Regions from separate parts of the Homo sapiens genome. Here region 1 is linked to region 2. The links come from fine-mapping of genetic effects on gene expression. A gene starts in region 2. The other region holds a variant in brackets. All regions are shown on one strand. Distances are from middle to middle.

The links. PIP is the estimated chance that this variant, and not a neighbour inherited with it, causes the effect. A credible set is the group of variants that fine-mapping cannot tell apart.
Region 1: its variant is the best candidate, but not a certain one, in a credible set for the expression of IL6R in whole blood (TOPMed, PIP 0.56).

What each region holds. Positions count from the first base shown.
Region 1 is chr1:154,444,666-154,449,665 of GRCh38, forward strand. It overlaps IL6R (interleukin 6 receptor), which reads left to right. Exons shown (of 10, transcript NM_000565.4): 7 at 3,460-3,506. Among named protein-coding and RNA genes, the nearest start is that of IL6R-AS1, 41 kb to the left of the region's middle. RefSeq lists an enhancer at 620-1,119. The variant G/C (reference allele first, on the strand shown) is at 1,992.
Region 2 is chr1:154,403,022-154,408,443 of GRCh38, forward strand. IL6R (interleukin 6 receptor) reads left to right here and starts at 2,322. Exons shown (of 10, transcript NM_000565.4): 1 at 2,322-2,693. The coding sequence starts at 2,609. It overlaps IL6R-AS1 (IL6R antisense RNA 1), which reads right to left and starts at 3,543. Exons shown (of 2, transcript NR_147855.1): 1 at 3,418-3,543; 2 at 1-936. RefSeq lists silencers at 2,127-2,256, 2,457-2,606 and an enhancer at 2,846-3,452.

The DNA.
Region 1 (5,000 bases), 41 kb after region 2:
TGGGGGAGGATTGCCTGAGCCCAGGAGATAGAGACCAGCCGGGCACCATAAGGAGACCCTGTCTTTACAAAAAAAAGTTAAAAAAAAATTAGTTGGGCATAGCAGTGCACACCTGTAGTCCTAGCTAAGTGGGAGGCTGAGGTGGAAGGATCACCTGAGCCCAGCAGTTGGAGGCTGCAATGAGCTATGATTGCACTACTGCACTCCAGCCTGGGCAACAGAGGGAGACCCTGTCTTAACAACAAAAAGACTCCTTAACTGCCCCCCACACCCGCCCCCCCCAAATGAGGAAGGGTGAAACCTCAAAATGAGGGGCGCTTTTGGCACCCAGACACTGTGGAGATTTGTACACACAGCCTTTTCTGTACTTGTCTCCACTAGGCTTCTCTCCACAGACCATCCCGGGTGGCATTTGGGACCCAGCTGGAGGTGAGTCATTTCTCCTCAGGAGGCTCCTCAGTGAGGTTTATTTATTTGTTTCTACACGAATAGAGGAGCAGTGATGAGCTGTCTGTTGGGTGGTTTAAAGGCTGCGAGGAAAGGTGTGAAGTAGGGTCCCCTTGCTCAGCACGCAGGAGCTGCCTGGCGCCACTGAGCCTGTGGGTCCCACGGTCTCTCCTCCCCTCTTCCTGTGGCTTTGTGGTTCATTACCACTTTAACCCCAGAAACCTGAGCCGCCAGAGGTTACTGGGCATTCTCTGGGCCACAGGCTGTGTTGGGGGTCAGGACTGAGAGTAGAAACTTTCTTCCTGAAGCATCTGTCTTGAGTATAGTATGGGGAGCCTTTAAAAAACCCTAATGACAGCTGGGCGCGGTGGCTCACACCTGTAATCTCAGTACTTTGGGAGGCTGAGGCGGGCGGATCACCAGGTCAGGAGATCAAGACCATCCTGGCTAACACGGTGAAACCCCGTCTCTACTAAAAATACAAAAAATTAGGCGGGTGTGGTGGTGGGCGCCTGTAGTCCCAGCTACTCAGGAGGCTGAGGCAGGAGAATGGCTTGAACCCAGGAGGCGGAGCTTGCAGTGAGCTGAGTTTGCGCCACAGCACTCCAGCCCAGGCGACAGAGCGAGACTCGGTCTCAAAAAAAAAAAAAGCCCTAATGACTGGGTCCCATTTCCATGGTTCTGAGGCAACAAGCAAGGTGGAGCCTTCAAGGCTCCAGACGAAGCTGACTCTGGCGGGGTTTGGAAAACTGCTGAACTGCACGAGCATCCATGGGCAGCCATATTTTCTATTTAGGGCTGCCCCATCTTCTTCTTGTTTTCTTCTTTTTTTTTTAGAGATGAGGTCTCACTATGTTACCCAGGCTGGTTTCAAACTCCTGGCCTCATGGGATTCTCCAGCCTCAGTCTCCCAAAGTGCTGGGATTACAGGTGTGAGTCCGGCCTGCCCCCATCTTCTTTGTCTTCTGATTTTAGCTTTCATTCTAGTGCCTCCATGCCCTCAGGTCATCCTTTAGATACCCTGGGCTATAAGTGTGTAACTGTCCTCTGCTGGGCTGGGAAGAACGCAAAGGAACAATAAACTGGGTCCCTCCCATGAATTCTAGGTTCAATTCAGGTCGCACTTGCTGTGCGGCCTTGAACAAGTCGCTTTCCCTCTCCGGGCCTCTGTTTCCCCTCTGTACAATTGGAAGAGTGGATGCATTCTTATACTTCCTCTGGTGCTGCTGGTGTGTGGTTTCCCCCTTACTGGTGATGGCATACTCCAGGAATTCTGGAAACCCTCCCTGACGCCGAAGCAGGGTCACCCTCTCCCCGCCTCCTTGCTAGTCCTTACTCCTGGCCCAGCGAGGCTCGTGATTTTTGTTTAAACCATTCTGTGGAATTTTAGAATTCTTGATGGAAAAATGATGAGCTGACAAGAAAATGTTTTGAAATCCAGAGCATTCCACTCACTGCCTGTTACGGTTAAGGCCCAGGCTTTCGCTTGGATACTTAGCCTCCTCTTGCCTTGGGGTTTCCGCAGAAACACTGTTCCCGTGCAG[G/C]GGGAGGGAGCCGTGAGGGTGCCTGGTCCACATCCCTGCTGCTGCAATGTGTACTAAACCCATACAGGCAAATGAATATTTATTTGTTATATATTTTTTATTGCAAAAAGGTGCATAGAAGGAAATTGAAATAGTGCTTATCTCTGGTGATGTGTATCTTTCCATTTTCTTCTTCCTGTGTGCAAATATATAGTATTATGATATATACTGTGTTACACAATAATCATAAAAATATATTTCTTTAGAAAGTTTGAATCAAAATACATAGAATTTTTCTTGTCTTGCATTCTTCATACAGCATTATGTCATGTCTTCAATGTTTTTCTAAAATATTTTTGGCCAGACGTGGTGGCACACGCCTGTAGTCCCAGATACTTGGGAAGCTGAGATGGGAGGATCACTGAAGCCCAGAAGTTAAAGCTACAGTGAGCCATCATCATGCCACTGCACTCCAGCCTGGCGACGGAGCGAGACCCTGTCTCAAAAAATATATAATAATTGGCCAGGCACGGTAGCTCATGCCTGTAATCCTAGCACTTTGGGAGGCCAAAGCGGATAGATCACCTGAGGTCAGGAGTTCAAGACCAGCCTGGCCAATATGGTGAAACCCTGTCTCTACTAAAAATACAAAAATTAGCTGGGTGTGGTGGTGGGCGCCTATAATCCCAACTACTTGGGAGGCTGAGGAAGAAGAATCGCTTGAACCCAGTAGGTGGAGGTTGCAGTGAGCCGAGATTATGCCACTTCACTCCAGCCTGGGCAAAAGAGTGAAACTCCATCTCAAAAAAAAAAAAAAAAATATATATATATATATATATATACACACACACACACACACACACACACATATATATATACACACATACATATATATACACATACATATATATACACATACACATATATATATATACACATACATATATATATATAAAATAAATTTTAAAAGTTTCTGCATTATGTAGTTATGTCATAATTTCTACAGCTAGTCCCTTACGGTTGGATATTTGGTTATTTCCAGCATGCTGTTTTTTGTTTTGTTTTGTTTTGTTTTGTTTTGTTTTGTTTTGTTTTTGAGACGGAGTTTTGCTCTTATTGCCCATGCTGGAGTGCAATGGCATGATCTCGGCTCACTGCAACCTCCGCCTCCCGGGTTCAAACGATTCTCCTGCCTCAGCCTCCCGAGTAGCTGGGATTACAGGCATGTGCCAGCACACCCAGCTAATTTTGTATTTTTAGTAGAGACAGGGTTTCTCCATGTTGGTCAGGGTGGTCTCGAACTCCTAACCTCAGGTGATCTACCCATCCTCCCAAAGTGCTGGGATGACAGACGTGAGCCACCGCGCCCAGCCCATGCTGTTCTTTTAAATAACATTGAGATGAACTTTTTTTTTCTGATGCTGAAGCCCCTGAGACAGGACTCCAGGGCCCATGAATCACTAATAATGAGCCTTTCTTCTGTCCGCAGAATCCAGGAGTCCTCCAGCTGAGAACGAGGTGTCCACCCCCATGCAGGTGAGCTCCTGTTCTTGTAAAAGGGTCAGGGCTGCAGCACCTCGTGTTTAGGAGTGTGGGCTGATGCCAGACCGAATTTGGTTTAAATCCAGTTCTGTCACTAGTAGAAATGTGGTCGTGGTGAGTTACCTGTGCTTTTCAAACCTCTGTGAAAGGGAATCATAGAAATTATCTTGTCCCAGGACTGTAAGGAGTGGAGCAGCGCTGGCCTGGCGTGCAGAACTGCTCTGCGTCTAGCAGCTGCTATTTCATCTCTGAGCTTTTTGGACAACGCTAATGGCTTAGCTTGAGATTGGATTCTGTTTATCTGCATCCTTCCCCTGTGGACTCTTGGTGACATAATTTGCTGGAAAGAGGATTACCTCTGAAGCTGCTTAACAAATTCCTTGAGTAATCCAATTTCCTATCCAACTATATCTCCTCCTGTGGCCCTTAATTCCCTAAATGCTAAGCTGGGAGTCATAGCCACTTCTGGAGCTGTGCGGCACAGGGAAGGAGCCTGGGGCTCTTGAACCTTATCTGTGTTCCATGTAGGAACAGCTGCAGGTGAAGCCCATACCCATGGGGCTAGAGTGCTCCCAACACGGGTTCTGGGGAAACTGACACCGACTGAGGACTGGCCACATCCTGCTAAACTGTGAGCCTTGCATTTGCTGTTTCATTGGCTCCTTATGTTAACATTGCAAGGGAGTGCTTGTAAGGGCTTTTTTTTTTTTTTTTTTTTTTTTTTTTTGAGACGGAGTCTCGCTCTGTCGCCCAGGTGGGACTGCGGACTGCAGTGGCGCAATCTTGGCTCACTGCAAGCTCCGTTTCCCGGGTTCACGCCATTCTCCTGCCTCAGCCTCCCGAGTAGCTGGGACTACAGGCGCCCGCGACCGCGCCTGGCTAATTTTTTTTGTATTTTTAGTAGAGACGGGGTTTCACCTTGTTAGCCAGGATGGTCTCGATCTCCTGACCTCATGATCCACCCGCCTCGGCCTCCCAAAGTGCTGGGATTACACGCGTGAGCCACCGCGCCCGGCCTTGTAGGGCTTCTTAACGTGAGTTAAGTCTGAGGCCAGGGCCGGGCACAGGGGCTCACACCTGTAATCCCAGCACTTTGGGAGGCTGAGGCAGGCAGATCACCTGAGGTCAGGAGTTCAAGACCATCCTGACCAACATGGAGAAACCCTTTCTCTACTGAAATACAAAATTAGCTGGGTGTGGTGGCGCATGCCTGTAATCCCAGCTATTTGATAGGCTGAGGCAGGAGAATCGCTTGAACCTGGGAGGCGGAGGTTGCAGTGAGCCGAGATCATGCCATTGCACTCCAGCTTGGGCAACAAGAGTGAAACTCCATTTCACAAAAAAACAAACAAAAAAAAAGAAGTCTGTCCAAGGTGACATAGCTCGTAAGTGGTGGAACCAGCATTCCAGTCATGGTAGTACCTGCATCCTTGCATCGGACCTGTAAGGACAACAGCTGCTTCAGTGTATCCACTGAGCATCTTCTCT
Region 2 (5,422 bases):
ACCTCCGCCTCCTGGGTTCAAGTGATTCTCCTGCCTCAGCCTCCTGAGTAGCTGGGACTACCGGTACGCACCACCATGCCCGGCTAATTTTTGTATTTTTAGTAGAGATGTGGTTTTACCATGTTGGTCAGGCTGGTCTCGAACTCCTGACCTCATGATCTGCCCACCTTGGCCTCCCAAAGTGCTGGAATTACAGGTGTGAGGCACCACGTCCGGCCTGGCCAGGATTAAATTTTTTCATGTGAACCACAACACTAAAACTTTGTATATTGCTGCGCTTATCTTACAAATCAGGAAATAGGGGTTCAGAGAAGTTAAATAGCTTGCTTAAGTCACACAGCCAGCAAGTGGTAAAGCTGGGATCTGCATGACTACAGAGCACACAGGCTCCCCACCAGTAGATTAGAGAGGGGGAGGTCTGCTTTGGTGCAGAGACAGGTGGGATCTGTGATGCCCGTTCTTGGTTTCAACATTCTTTTAAACTCTCCTATCTGAGCCTAGGACTTTCTGCAGCCTTCCTGTTTTAGGCTGGCAGCTCACAGTCCCTCTCTGGTTATTTTCAGGTCTGTGTGTGCCACAGAGAGGAAGGGGGCAACCACAGTGGGAACCGCTTTCCAGCCCTGCTGCAACCCCTTTTGAAATAGCAGGCGAGAGGGCTGGTGGCCTCCACTGTGCTCTTCTGTTCCTGTCTGTGGGCATGGCTAAAGCAAACAAGCTCACCCACACCAGCTCCCATCGTGCGGTGGATCAGTGCATGTGCTTGGTTCTGTCTGGCACTGCTGATGGGTGGTTCCTACAGAAAGATCCAGATGCACGGGGTCTGAGGACTGTTTCAGAAGCTCTGTCCGTCCATGCCTGGCCCTGTCCACTTGGGAGTTCCATTAGGCCATGCCTGTTCCAGCTGTCCCAGGATCTTTGATCTGGGTTAGGATTGGCCTGAAACCAAAGGTAGAAAAACACATTCTAATGAGCAGTTGCTGGTCTAGAAGCTTCTCAGCCTAAACTTTATTTCAGCATTTTTCTTTCCCTCCAGATTCAGCTATGAGGCCATCCTATCAGCTTTAGGCTCTGTGGGGGTCCTTGAGAGAGTTCCCCTCCAAGGGACGGACAGATGGTCCCCTTCAAGGTCCTTGTGGTTGCTCAAAAGCCAGGTGCTTGTTTCTTTCTTTTTTTCTCTCCTTCCTTTCCTTCCTTCCCCTCTATCCCTCCTTCCCTCCCTCCCTCCCTCCTCCCTTCCTTTTCTTTCTTTCTTTTCTTTTTTTTTTTTTCTTTCCAGACAGGGTCTCACTGTCATCCAGGCTGGAGTAGCAGCCCCCAATCACGGCTCACTGTACCCTGGATCTCCCGGACTCAAGCAATTTTCCCACCTCAGCTTCCCTAGTAGCTGGGACTATAGGTGTGTACCACCACACCCAGCTAATTTTTAAATTTTTTTATAGAAATGGGGGTCTCACTTTGTTACACAGGCTGGTCTAGAATTCCTGGACTGAAGCAATCCACCCACCCGGCTCTCCCAAAGTGTTGGGGTTACAGGCGTGAGCCACTGCCCCTGGTGTTAGTGTCTGTCTGTCAAGTCAGGAGGGCAGCCATGAACGTTCTGATGTCTACTGAGCACGTGTGGCCCAGACCGTGTGTCAGGTGTTTAGGTGCCATCCACAGAACCTTCCTAATAACCCTGGGCAGCATAGGCTTTCTTATCTCTGACAGATGAGGAAATGGAGACTCAGATTCTGAACCGAAGTCACAGACACAGTAGATGGTAGGTCTAAATGGGGACCCAGGTCTATCTGACTGCAAAGTCCAAACCGTTTCCTTGCCTCTGCTGCAGCCTGCGAGGAGCAGCTGGGCAGAAAGACTGTGCCTTTACGGTGGTGAGTCTTCCGATGCCCAAGCCTCACCCCAGACCGATGAAATCAGAATCTCTGGAGACCCGACCCAGACATTGGTGGGTTTTAGGGCTCCTGGCTGATTCCAGTGGGCAACCGGGCTACCAAGCACTGTTTTACCCTAAGGGTAAGAGGAACATCGCCTCCTCGAGGGCTCTCCAGGTGTGCCTTTCACAGCGTAATCCCGTTCACGAAACCAAAAATCAAAACTAGGCCACTGCCCACTGGTGGCTGATACGCCCTTTTCTCATCAACAGAACCGGGAGGAAGGGCTCTGGTGGGGCTGGCGGTCCCCTGTTCTCCCCGCTCAGGTGCGGCGCTGTGGCAGGAAGCCACCCCCTCGGTCGGCCGGTGCGCGGGGCTGTTGCGCCATCCGCTCCGGCTTTCGTAACCGCACCCTGGGACGGCCCAGAGACGCTCCAGCGCGAGTTCCTCAAATGTTTTCCTGCGTTGCCAGGACCGTCCGCCGCTCTGAGTCATGTGCGAGTGGGAAGTCGCACTGACACTGAGCCGGGCCAGAGGGAGAGGAGCCGAGCGCGGCGCGGGGCCGAGGGACTCGCAGTGTGTGTAGAGAGCCGGGCTCCTGCGGATGGGGGCTGCCCCCGGGGCCTGAGCCCGCCTGCCCGCCCACCGCCCCGCCCCGCCCCTGCCACCCCTGCCGCCCGGTTCCCATTAGCCTGTCCGCCTCTGCGGGACCATGGAGTGGTAGCCGAGGAGGAAGCATGCTGGCCGTCGGCTGCGCGCTGCTGGCTGCCCTGCTGGCCGCGCCGGGAGCGGCGCTGGCCCCAAGGCGCTGCCCTGCGCAGGGTAAGGGCTTCGGGCGCACCTGGAGGGCTGGGGCAGCTAGCGGCTGGGGGAAACCGCCTTGGTCACCGCAGTCTGTGGGAGGCTGGAGGGAGGAAAGGAGGTGCGACGGATCCCCTTTTCTGTGGCTGCCTTGAGGCCCCGCGGGTACCTAGCTGTGTGGTCGCGGGTAGTGGCTCTTGCGCCCCCTGCTGCGCTTGCTCCCTTGGTCCGGAGCGCTCCCCGGAATGCCCGGTGAAGCTGTGCGGGAACCCTGCGGTCTGTGTACAGGACTGTGTCCTTGCAAACCTGACTCTCGAGCTTCCTTCCCAGTGCCCCCAGGAGCCTTTACACAACCGCGTCCCAGGTTACTCTAAGGGGAGACTGCCCGAGAGGGCGCGCCCCAGCGGGGTGATGTACCCGCCTGGGGAGTCCTTTGTACCAGCGCCCCTCTTCTCCCTCTGCATTGGGGGTCCACCTCGCCTGGTCCTCCCCCCACCCCCGCGGGTGCATGTGTGGATGACAGTGCCCTGACTATGAAGGGACTGACATCACGGGCGCTGAGTCACGGATCTTCCCGCTGCACGGAGTCACTTTGGCAGCCACCAACTCTGGGAAGCCAAGTGCCCCAGTCCTGGGAATTGAGTCGGGAGGCTGGCAAGGGAGTGAGACCTCCTGGGGCTGGCACGTGCTGGACTCCCCTCTAGAAAAGAGAAGGACCCGTGAGGGAGAGGGCAGAGGCACTTACTGCTCCCGTTGACTGTAATCTGCCCCTGGCAAACCAGGCTTTTCTTGGGCTCTGGCCGCATGCCCAGCTGCGTGTCTAGTCTCTCTTCTGGAAGAGTTGGGCAACTGGCTCTCCAGAGGTTTATTTTAGGGTCCCAGTGCTTCTTTGAGGACACAGCAGAAAACTAAGGGGCAGCTGACAGGCTTCTGGAACAGCTGACAGGCTGGGGAGGCTGAAGGCTAAGACTTTCAACCACTAGATCACACTGAATTCCAGTCCTAGGTGAACACTGATCTCTCCCTTTGAGGAGGTGACTTTCTGCAACTAGAGGCTGAGCTGGAGTGTCTGAGGCTCTCTTTGCTTTTTGGATGGTTGTGGTCCTTATGATTGGAAGAAAAAAAGAAGGGATTCCATTTTCAATACACATTTATAACTCCTGCCAGTAACAGACACTGTTGATTGGGGCACCCATTCAATGTTTTCTAATCCTCCACTGTATCTACATATAACTTTGTTTGAAAGAGGAGACTGAGGTTCAGGGAGGTTGGGATGGCGGGATGGCAGGTTGTCAGGCCCCGGTGATGGAGGCCAACCCCTCCCGTGGCTCTGTGCTCCAGTGTGGTAGATGTCTAAGACTCTCAAATATAGAACTAGATCAGCAGGCAGAGCTGGGGGCATTGGGGCAAGCTGAGAGTCACTCTTGTCTGGCTGAGTGCTGGGACAGAAAAGGCTGAGGGAGGGAAGTGGAGGCCCAGGCTTGCCCATGGTGGTGTTAGAGGGATGCAAGACAGGTTCCAGGGCTCGGATGGCCTCAGGAGCAAGCAGGGCTCCCTTGGCTGCCTCTGCTGCTGTCACGCCAGCCCAAGGCTCCTGCCCCAGGGAGGTTACTGTTACTGCTGTAGTTGCCACCACCTGTTGCTCCTGAGTGGATGCTAGGCCCTTCCAGGGCAGCCAGTTACAGTCAGTTTTCCATTTCCCTGGTGCTCAGGAAGGATTAGGAGAGGTGGTCTCATGGCCTGAACAGCCCATGAAAGGCAGAACTGAGAGACTGGGGAGGAAGTGAAAGTCCTCCCAGCTCAGAAGGAAAATGCAGAGAAGTAGAAATACCCAGCCCCTCTCCCACACCCACACAGACTCAGCCCACAAACTGGAGAGTAAAAATAAAGAAATCGTACAGGAAGCATGGAGCAAATGACTGTGAGATGTTTCGCTTTAGAGAAGTGAGGAGCAGAGGGGGAGCAGAGGCTGGAGTTGGCTGAGAGGGGAAATCCGCAGGTACAGCCTGCGGGGCTCTTAGAGCCCAGAGGTTTGTTTTCCTCGGGATCAGCTGCCGCCCACACACCCTGGAGCTGCCAGGACTTCTCAGGTGTACTCGTTGTCTAAGGGCCTGGACTAGCTGGGACTTAGGCTTCTGCCGGTTCCAACACTCTGGTGCTGGAAGGCTGGACTTGGGTGACTCAAGTTCCCTCTTCCTACTGCAATGCAAGAAAATACACAAAAGAAGTATGTATACCTTTAAGTATCTCAAAGAGCTATCTCAGCTTCTGAATTTCCTTCTAGGGCACCTCTTCCTGCCCCCATTACCCACACACGTGCCTAGCCTCACCCTAAATCAGTATTTCTCAAAAGCTTAGTTCTGAGCCTAGCATCAGATCTGGTGTGTGTGCTGGGTGGGAGGGCTTTGGTAAACATGATGATTTTTGAACCCTAACCCAGATTTATTAAATAAGAACACCTAGGAGTGAGGCCTGGGGCATGTCCTTTTAAACAAACTGCCCCTTGTGATTCTTAGGCACTGTCAGGTTTGAGGACGGCTGCCTAAATGGTGTCATTGAGGAACTGAATGAAGGCCCTCCCGCTTCGGGCTCTCTGTTGCCAGAAATCTCTCCTTGCTTTGGCTTGCTGCTTGTTTATTCATTGCAGCAAACATTTCTTGAGTCGGTGTAGAGCCTGTGAGGCCTGTGTAGGATCAGCTATGCAGACTCCACCCTAAAAGGAGCCTGAAAATGGTCATGGGTAAATCCTG